2 separate regions of the Homo sapiens genome follow, and region 1 is linked to region 2. The links come from fine-mapping of genetic effects on gene expression. A gene starts in region 2. The other region holds a variant in brackets. All regions are shown on one strand. Distances are between the middles of the regions.

Region 1 (5,383 bases), 93 kb after region 2:
GAATAACGCCTGACACATAGTAAATGCTCAATGAACATTGACTATTAACGTTAGCACTTCTTAAACACCTTCTATGCACTGGGCATTTGTTCACATTATCTGAATTGTTGCAATAACCCTGGAAGTAGATGACTCCACATTCTGCAGATGAATAATTTGGGGCTTAGCAACACTGGGTGATTTAAATGCCCAGTGACAGTCGTGATGAAATCTGAATCCAGATGTGTCAAAAATCTCTCTCCACCACAGTGTACTTTATTATTTTTTCAGTAGTGAAGCGCTTCTTAAAAATAAGTATGTAAAAAAATTAGTGAAGTACTTTTAAAAGATAAGATACACCTACTAAATAGATATTTTACATAAGTGATTACTAATTCAGTTTCTGCTTTACATTGCTAAAATGTAAGCCAGATGAGCTTATCATAGAGCCTATGTATAAGAGGAGGACTGAATATAAATTGCATGCTGTAGGCTAAAGAATTATTTTCCAGTAATATATCTATATCAAATCTTTTGTGCTTTGTTTCTTGGTAGGCTGTTATAATGGATTAGTTTATGTTCTGAAAAGTAATAGTGGAGAAAAATACTGGATGTTTACTACTGAAGATGCTGTCAAAAGCTCGGCAACCATGGATCCAACCACAGGACTCATTTACATTGGATCTCATGACCAGCACGCATATGCTTTAGATATTTATGTAAGGATTGACCTCAAATTAGCTGGGCATGGTGGCGCATGCCTGTAATGGTAGTTACTCCAGAGGCTGAGGTGGGAGGATTGCGTGAACCTGGGAGGTGGAGGTTGCAGTGAGCCAAGATTGTGACAGTGTATTCCACCCTGGGTGACAGAGTGAGACTCTATCTCAAAAAAAAAAAAAAAAAAAGAAAGAAAATTCACCTCATTAGTCTAATACCATAAGCATAGAAGCATTAAATTTCAATACTTAGAAGAAGAGTGAGTAACTGTCAGGTGTAGTTGAGCCTTGGAACAGGTATTAACTATTTCCCAAGCTTGTGTGGTCTGGGAAGAATAAAGCATTAATTAAGTCTTAATATCTTAAGACCTTTTTAACTTCATTACCAAATTTACCACAAATAAGTGTGCTACTCAGAGTTTTGGAATTAAAGAATTTAGGATTATCATCTTGACAGTAGAAAAAAATGACGAAGATATCAATAAGATGTTTTAAGACCTGATTACATAAAAATTAAAATGTTATGTAAGAATTATGAAATTAAGCTGGGAAAATTTTTGAAATAAATGTAAAAAAAGTGGAAATTCATTTATATTTATAAGTATTAATGAAAATAAAGATCAAATACAAATTAATAAGACAAATGTAGAGCAGATAGAAAAATAAACAAGGGACATAAATACACAGGACCCCAAAGAAGAGACGGCTAGTAAATGTATATAAATAGTTCATGAATTTAATAATCAAAGGAATGAAAATTAAAAACTCTTGAGATAAACAAATGGTGTTAGATTAGAAGACATATTCATCATAACATTAAATGCTGATGAGAGTGGTAAGAGGTTGTAACTAGTGAGGCCTCTAATGAAAACGATTTGACCATAGGTAACAATATCATATCCTTGATCCAATAAAATTCGTTTTTTAGAAATCCTGGCAAAAATAATCAGAAACATAGTCAAATATATGCATTAAGATGCCTATTTCTAAGTTGTTTATAATACCTAGAAATTCCAAAAAACGTTCAATGATAAGGTAGAGAGAGAAATTATTTATGTTCATATGGGATATTATGGATTAAAATTATATTTAAATCATTTTACAAAATCAGTGAGCAAAATATGATACCAAGTTATATATTCAGAATGATCTCAGCTATATTAGATCGTGTGTGTGTATATACACATATTCTCAGATGTGTGCGCCCAGACACACACACCCATACCCCAAAAAGATCAAATGAGAAAATGCTAAAATGTTAACACTGGTTGTCTCTGGGTAGTGTCCTTTGTCTTTATACTAATCTGATTCTCCACAGTAGGCATGTACTTTATACTAAAGATAAAAACTTATATTAACTAAACAGACATAATATCATGAAGGGTAGGTTATATGGATTTGTTAACCATCAACAAGAACAAATTAATTTGTTTTCTTATTTGCAGAGAAAGAAGTGTGTTTGGAAGTCAAAATGTGGAGGAACTGTCTTTTCCTCTCCGTGTTTGAACCTGATTCCACATCATTTGTATTTTGCTACATTGGGAGGACTTTTACTGGCTGTAAATCCTGTAGGCATAAAATAATACATATTGATTTTATTACTTTTCTTTAAATTTGTAAAATTTTTGCTTTGAGCTTTGAAAGTTTGAGTAGTTTTCAGTTAATTGTAGTAGTCCACATACACCAAACTGGAATTCATTAAAAATGATTGACATGAGATCTAGAAAGATAAGAAAATTTAAATTCCTGTATATATATAT[ATATG/G]TATTTTTTTGTTTGTTTGTTTGTTTTTTGACAGAGTCTCCCTCTGTCACCCAGGCTGGAGTGCAGTGGCGCAATCTCAGCTTACTGCAACCTCTGCCTCCCAGGTTCAAATTGACAAAATTTTTTTCATCATATTAAGAACTTTATGTCCATCACAGGGATAACTCTTAGGTGCTAGTTTTTTCTTTGCTGCTTTTATTGCAAGCCTTTTTCCTAGTTCTCATAAATAGCACTGATTAATTTTATATATGTATACCAGCTTCATTTATGTCTGCATACCACTACAGCATTTTCTGCTATTTTAGTTCTAACCCTAGGAGATGTATGAGTTTGTTTTTTAAAGGGTAACTGATTAGTAGGATGACATAAAATGCTGTGAATTGCTTTTTCCTGTGACAGGCTACTGGGAACGTTATTTGGAAACATTCCTGTGGAAAACCACTCTTCTCTTCCCCACAATGTTGCTCACAGTATATTTGTATTGGCTGTGTAGATGGGAATTTACTCTGCTTTACTCACTTTGGAGAACAGGTAATAGAACTAGAAATTTTTTATATATACATTTTTATATATATATAAATGTATATATAAAAAATAGAACTAGAAATTTTATATATCTATAGTTCTATTTATATTTTTTAAATTTACTTTTCTTAAAGGCAAAGCAGATGGTGACAACTGAAGTAACATTTTAAACATCATTATTCAACTCACGGTGTTGAGAAGTAGTTCTATTTTAATTGTGAAGCCATGGATTTCTTAATTTTTTAAAGAAGACATAGTAGATTTAAAAGATTTCTACCCAAACATTGTTACACTTCTTTTGTCATCTCCCCCAATTTTTAAAATATTACCAGTTTTTAGCCTGTTTTATTATAACTTCTATTGAGATTATGAAAGTTTAAATAAAACCCCTGGATTCTTTTAATTGATACAGACATTTGTACCTATTTATGGGGTATGTATGTGATATTTTGTTACAATCATAGACTGTGTAATGATTAAGTCAGGGTGTTTGTGGTGTCCATCACCTTGAGTACTTATTATTTCTATGTGTTGGGATCATTTCATGTCTTCTCTTTTAGCTGTTCTGAAATATACAACATATTGTTGTTGGCTGTAGTCATCCTACTCTGCTACTGAACATTATAACTTATTTTTTCTTACTATATGTTTTTACCTATTAACTAACCTGTTTTTATTTTTTTATTAGCCAACCCACCCCAACTTCTTTTTTTTTTTTTTTTTTTTTTTTGAGACAGAATCTTGCTCTGTTACCAGGCTGGAGTACATTGGTGTGATCTTGGCTCACTGCAACCTCCGCCTCACGGGTTCAAGCAATTCTCCTGCTTCAGCCTCCCGAGTAGCTGGGACTACAGGCGCATGCTGCCATGCCTGGCTAATTTTTGTATTTTTAGTAGAGACGGGGTTTCACCATGTTGCCCAGGCTAGTCTCGAACTCCTGACCTCAAGTGATCCACCTGCCTCAGCCTCCCAAAGTATTGAGATTACAGGCATGAGCCACCACGCCCGGCCCCCAACTTCTAATATTCCATTTTCTTCCTCCCTGAGATCAACTTTTTTAGCTCTCACATATGAGTGAGAACATGCAATATTTGTCTTTTTGGGCCTGGCTTAATTTCACTTAAGATAAAAATCTCCAATGGCTGGGCATCATGGCTCACGCCTGTAATCCCAGCACTTTGGGAGGCCGAGGTGGGAGGATCACAGAGTCAGGAGATCGAGACCATCCTGGCCAACATGGTGAAACCCCGTCTCTACTAAAATACAAAAAAAAAAAAAAAATTAGCTGGGTGTGGTGGCACATGCCTGTAGTCCCAGCTACTTGGGAGGCTGAGGCAGGGGAATCGCTGGAACCCGGGAGGTGGAGGTTGCAGTGAGCCAAGATTGTGCCACTGCACTCCAGCCTGGTGACAGAGCGAGACTCTGTCTCCAAAAAAAAAAAAAAAAAAAAAGATAAAAGTCTCCAGTTCCATCCATGTTGCTGCAAATGACATGATTTCCTTGGTTTTTATGGCCTGATAGTATTTCACTGCATCTATATATACTACATTTTCTTTATCCACTCATCCATTGGTGGACACTTAAGTGCATTCCATATCTTTGCTCTTGTGAATTGTGCTGCAGTAAACATGGGAGATGGGAGTGCAGGTTGTCTCTTTGATATACTGATTTTTTGTCTTTGGGTAAATAGTAGTAGGACTGTTGGATATGATAGTTCTCTTCTTAGTTTTTTGAGAAATCTCCATACTGTTTTCCACAATGACTACCCTAATTTACATTCCCACCAGCAGTGTAAGTTCCTTTTTCTCCACATCCTTGCCAGCATTTGTTATGTTCTTTTAGTAATAGCCATTTTAACTTGGTAAGATGATATCTCATTGTGGTTTTGATTTGCATTTCCCTGATCATTAGTGATGTTGAGTGTTTTTTTCATATACCTGTTAGCCATTTGTATGTCTTCTTTTGAGATATGTCTATTCATCTCCCTTGCCCACTTTTTAATAGGATTTGTTTACTGTTGTGTTGTTTGAGTTCCTCATATTCTATATATTAGTCCCTTGTTGGATGAATAGTTTGCAAGTATTTTCTCCCATTCAACAGGCTGTCTCTTCACTCTGTTGTTTCCTTTGCTGTGCAGAAGCTTTTTAGCTTAATATAGTCCCACTTAACTATTTTTGTTTTTGTTGCCTATACTTTTTAGGCCTTAGCTATAAAAGCTTTGCTTAGACCAGTGTCCTGAAGTGATTCCCTTATGTTTTCTTCTAGTAGTTTTAACTAGTTTTAGGTCTTAAATTTAAGTCTTTAATCCATCTCGAGTTTATTTTTATATGCAGTGAGAGAGAGGGGTCTGGTTTATTCTTCTGCATGTAGAGAGAGCTCCAATTTTCCCAGCACCATTC
Region 2 (5,383 bases):
GGCTTATAGAAGACAAATTTACATTATATTTCCATTAGCCAGCAATGTTCTGGGAAAAATAATATAAATAAAATGTATATAATGAAAAACAAACTTTGGTGAATTAACCTGACTGGAACATAGCTAAGGATTCACAGGAGAGAAAAATCAAAGTTAGGGCTGAAGAGGTAGAAGGGATAGCAGTATTCAGGATTTGAATGAAAAGGGATTTCAGACTGGACAGACTGGATTTAACATCTCTAGAGATGCCATTTTTGCCTTTGTTGCCACTTTTGCCTTTTAGAGACCATAAAAGTGACATTTAAGAAAAATCAACCTGCCAACGGTACACAAATGGAAAGAAGTGGAAGAGCAAAGATTTTAGAGATTTGCCATTTTAGAGGTACAGGTACCATGATTGCAAGAAAAATTCTGGTCCTTGCCTTGATTCTAGGGAGTTGATACTCAATATCATCTGAATCTTTTTTGCTGAGTCTACAGCTTTTTTTTTTTTTTTTTTTTTTTTTTGAGACAGAGTCTCTCTCTGTCGCCAGGCTGGAGTGCAGTGGCGCGATCCCGGCTCACTGCAGCCTCTGACTCCCCGGTTCAAGTGATTCTCCTGCCTCAGGTTCCCGAGTAGCTAGGATTACAGGCATACGCCACCACGTCCAGCAAATTTTTGCATTTTTAGTAGAGCCGGGGTTTCACCATGTTGGTCAGGATGATCTCGATCTCCTGACCTCGTGATCCGCCCGCCTGGGACTCCCAAAGTGCTGGGGATTACAGGCGTGAGCCACAGCGCCCGGCCTGAGTCTACAGCTTTTTAAAATCTGAATTCAGTTACTTTCTATGTGGAAAAGAATGTACCCAGCAGCCACAAAAGCAATTTGCCTCACTATACATATAGCAACTGGGTGTGTGGAAAAAACCAGCATTTGTTTTTTTCCAGCATAAATAGCAAGAACAATCTTTCCTGATAGTGCAACTTTTTTGCCTAAAGGTTTTGGAGTTCTTCAAAGCCATCGTGGCATCAAAGACTACTGGAACGAACACACACACACACACACACACACACACACACACACACACACCATCATGGCATCAAAGACTACCTAAAAACAGCCCCCCTCCCCAGCCATCATGGAATCAGACTACTTCAACACGCGCGCGCACACACATACACACCCATGACATCAAAGACTACTTAAACACGCACACGCACGTACACACACCCCAAGCTATCGTGGCATCAAAGACTACTTCACGCGCGCGTGCACACACACACACACACCATGGCATCAAAGACTACTTACACACACGCCCCCTAGACAGGTTTTTCTTTTTCTTTTTTGAGACGGAGTCTCGCTTTGTCGCCCAGGCTGGAGTGCAATGGCGCGATCTCGGCTCACTGCAACCTCCGCCTCCGGGTTCAAGCGATTCTCCTACCTCAGCCTCCTGAGTAGCTGGGGATTACAGGCGCGCGCCACCACGTCCAGCTAATTTTTTGTATTTTTAGTAAGAGACGGGGTTTCGCCATGTTGGCCAGGCTGGTCTCGTACTACTGACCTCAGGTGATCCGCCCGCCTTGGCCTCCCAAAGTGCTGGGATTACAGGCGTGAGCCACCAGGCCCGGCCTCTAGACAGGTCTTTCAAAAGTTTCAATTATTAACCTTCTTAGAAAGGTCATTAACCTAACGGGCAAAGCAAGACTCAGGTTTTGACGAATCAAGACTGATTTGCTTGTATTTTGCAATAGCTATTGATTATAAATAATACTTCCAGGCACCTTTCCACCCCTTGGCCATTTCTCGTTCTCCTCTACTTTGCTCCTTCTCCCCATCCCCGAGGCAGTAAAGTTCGGGGAGGCCCGGGAGCGCCTGGGCCACGTGTGCGCCCGCGCGGCTGCCTAGAGGCGCTGCTGCAGGGAGGCGGGACAGAGTTTCGCGGCTCGCACGTGGCCGCGAGCTCACGGCCTGGGGGTCAGGGAGACCGTGAAGGGCCCGGATCCCTGTTACTCACCCTCAGCTGTCGCCATTATCCTAAGTGGGCTGAGGGCTGCGACCGCGCCGGGAAGCGAGGCAGAACTCTAGAAAAGAGGGGTGGTCAGAGAGCTTCGCTGGGCGGGGAAGGAGGCGGGGCCGCGCGACCCTGCGCCACTCTTTTCGAGCTCCGCTACAGCCGCCTAACCCGGAGGGGTATGGGCGGAGACTGAAACGCGGATATCGGACGAAACAACGCCCCACTGGCTTCCCGCCGCGCAGGCGCAGAGACGCGACCCCGCCTCCGGGCCGCCCCGCGCTGGCGCAGTGCCCGGACAGGCGAAAAGTGGCGCGCACTGGCGGCCCCTCCCCACTCTGCGGAAGCTCGCATACCCCGGCCCCTTCTCGGCTGCGGGAGCGACTCAGAAGTTGGAGCGTACCAAGTCTTGACGGCCTGGGGGAAGCATGCAGGGAAGGGCATATGAAGGCTAAATGCTCTGAAAGAGAAATGAGGTTAAGTCCGTTACTCCCATTACGCTACTGTTGGGTGCTGGAAAATAACGGAGATTTCCACGTGCAGCAAATACAGCTTTCCAGGCAGCTCTTAGGGGAAGGCTAGCTCCACCCTACAGCATCCGTGACCCCGCCCCTCAGCCGCGGGACCGCCCCTCCGCCCTCGCTCGTTGGTGGACTCGGAGGGGGAGGAGCAGGGCTGAGCTGGCCACGCCACCTAGGGACAGCGCGCGCCGCCGCAGTAGCTGGGGCCACCCTCGGGAAGGAAGAGCCTGTCGCGAGCGCGAGCTTCTGAGCTCGACGGGCCGAGCTGGCAGCTGGTTGGTGCTTACACCTTGGCCGCAGCGGCAGGTCCTTCCACGTGCTTTCGGCGGCGACATGGAGCTGGAGGAGTTGGGGATCCGAGAGGAATGTGGCGTGTTCGGGTGCATCGCCTCAGGAGAGTGGCCCACGCAGCTGGATGTACCGCATGTGATCACTCTGGGACTCGTGGGGCTGCAGCACCGGTGAGCAACAGGGTGGGGGTGGCGGGGGCGTGCGTCTCCATCTCTCGGAGCCGCTTCCCGCAGTCGGCGTTCTCATGAGCGCCCGAGGGCCCGGGAGGACCGACCTCTCCGACCTAAGCCAGTACCTGCCTGTGGCGTCGACCGGGTTGCCTAGGCGTGCACGAGGGGCACCTCGCTTCCATGAACTTTAGCCTGTCCTGCCCACCCTCCCAGCCACTTATGCCTTTTAGGGGCTCTCTCCCTCCCCGCCCCCCGGTGTGTGCACCCATCCAGAGGCTGGCCAGCTTGTAAACCGCCGGTTTGCTTGGTCTAGCTGGGTCAGGGCTCCTCCCCGACTGCAGGCGGGTTCTAGTCTCCCGGAGCCTGTGGCTGCTCCTGTAATAGGCTAGTGTGGCGTGGCGGCCAGTCCAGGTCCTTCAACACCTAAAGGTTTTCGCGCGGGGCCTCCAACCACCACAAGCTTTTGTTTGCAAGGGCAGAGCTATTGAGCAGATTATGGGTTTGAAAGTAGTTATCGCTATGGGAACTTGAGGATGCTAGACTTCAGACCCAGGGAAAGATGACTAGTTGATGTTGAGAATGACTACTGGTAGTAGATCTCACATAAATTAAATGGAAATAAGCCAACCATAGGGAACAGTGCATCTGGAAAAGATTCATTGGTAGACGTCTTGCCTAATGAATGAAAACGTTGGTAATAACATGACAAAAATTAACTCCCTTCTTCAAAAGGGGGACAGGGGAGTAGTGTCTCTATGCCAAGATCCATACACTTGATTTTGAAAAATTGGGAGATCCTTTCGAGTTAAAAAAAATTACTTTGCTTCGGTGATCTTTCCTTTTCTTACTACCTGACTTAACTGGAAGTTGATATAAATTATTACACTAGGATAAGAAAAACAAACCTGGGTTTGATATTCTTACTGAAAGTATTACAGTTTCCATAAGGCAATACAGTGGTAACAACTTACACTACAGTTAAGGAACTTGGCAATAACACGTAACAGCAAAATGGGTGCAACACGTATAAACGCATTCCAAAAGATTAGCTTTTCCTCCACCAAACTTAAATTAGAAGTATTTTTTGCTGTTTTCATTGTCCCAGGTACTTCAATTTCAGTTTCACATTTTGTGTGTTCCTTGTTTACTAAAGAGCTGAGAATGTGGGAAGCATCAAAAAGAATATTTTTAACTTGCGTAGCTCCAATCTTGGATAATTGTGGGTTGACCATAATAGATTTCTTGTTTTTTTTAAAAAAAGTTTATTGAGAAAATTAGTTACGTAATCCAAGGAGAAAGTAAACTCTTGATTATGTGGTAGTTGTGAGCAACATTAGTTTGTAACATTCTTAGAAACTATGGCCAGGCGCGGTGGCTCACGCCTGTAATCCCAGCACTTTGGGAGGCCGAGGCGGGCGGATCACGAGGTTAAGAGATCGAGACCATCCTGGCCAACATGGTGAAACCCCATCTCTGCTAAAAATACAATTAGCTGGGTGTGGTGATGCGCTCCTGTAGTCCTAGCTACTCCGGAGGCTGAGGCAGGAGAATCGCTTGAACCCGGGAGGCTTAGGTTCCAGAGAGCAGAGATCACGCCACTGCACTCCAGCCTGGGCGACAGAGCGAGACTCCGTCTCAAAAAAAAAAAAACAGTTGTTATTTTGGATACTCTGTCATGGGGGTGAGGGAGAATCTAGAGGTCTTTAGGGTTGCCTGGTGGTCTGTAGAAAATATGTATGAACTGTACTTCACTATATTTACTTTTTTTGCCAAAGTTATTCAAGAAATTTTCATCCCCCTTTCTCCTTCCCTTTAAATGTGTGCCTGAAGAAAAAGAGGCTTTTTTTTTTTTTTAACTTACATGTTAGCACTGGTTGGAGTTTTAGTACCCAGTTTAGGAAAATACTTGGTATTCATGGTTATAGGTTTTTTTTTTCTTTTTTTTTTTTTTTAATGAATACCATTTGATTCCTGGTTACATATATCTGTTTTCTATAGTTGCTTTTCTGTGAAAGAATTGTAAGATTAAATAATACCAGATAAGGGCAATAATGATGTGATTATGTGGTTTTGAGGAACAAATGTATTACTGAAAAACAATTTAACATTTCTCTTGTGTAGGCATAGAATCATTAAGGTGCACAAAGAGGGCTGGTTCTCACCCATAATCAATTCAAAATTTTACATGAGCTAAAGTGCTCATCCTTTGGGAGGACTGATTCTGCTTGGAAGAACAATGACACTCCCTTATGTCTTGGAAATACAATTATCTGCTGCTCGAAACTGATAGATAAGGGCCAGAATAAAACTAAGAACTTTTTCTTTTAGTTTAGTTTTATATATATATATATAAAATACGTGTGTGTATGTATATATGTATATATATATCGTACTCTGAGAAGTGGT

Which allele goes with the higher level. Alleles are on the strand shown, and positions count from the first base shown. SD is a standard deviation of normalised expression in the study named.
For the expression in testis of the gene that starts at base 2,067 in region 2, allele G in region 1 goes with a lower level than allele ATATG (small effect, 0.15 SD a copy in GTEx).

The links. PIP is the estimated chance that this variant, and not a neighbour inherited with it, causes the effect. A credible set is the group of variants that fine-mapping cannot tell apart.
Region 1: its variant is the best candidate, but not a certain one, in a credible set for the expression of PAICS in testis (GTEx, PIP 0.53).

The regions. Positions count from the first base shown.
Region 1 is chr4:56,340,442-56,345,824 of GRCh38, reverse strand. It overlaps AASDH (aminoadipate-semialdehyde dehydrogenase), which reads left to right. Exons shown (of 15, transcript NM_181806.4): 12 at 535-698; 13 at 2,141-2,263; 14 at 2,859-2,990. Among named protein-coding and RNA genes, the nearest start is that of AASDH, 44 kb to the left of the region's middle. The variant ATATG/G (reference allele first, on the strand shown) is at 2,456.
Region 2 is chr4:56,432,944-56,438,326 of GRCh38, reverse strand. PAICS (phosphoribosylaminoimidazole carboxylase and phosphoribosylaminoimidazolesuccinocarboxamide synthase) reads right to left here and starts at 2,067. Exons shown (of 9, transcript NM_001079524.2): 1 at 1,999-2,067. The coding sequence starts at 2,014. It overlaps PPAT (phosphoribosyl pyrophosphate amidotransferase), which reads left to right and starts at 2,712. Exons shown (of 11, transcript NM_002703.5): 1 at 2,712-2,977. The coding sequence starts at 2,850. RefSeq lists enhancers at 1,097-1,980, 2,828-3,007 and silencers at 2,108-2,397, 2,538-2,737.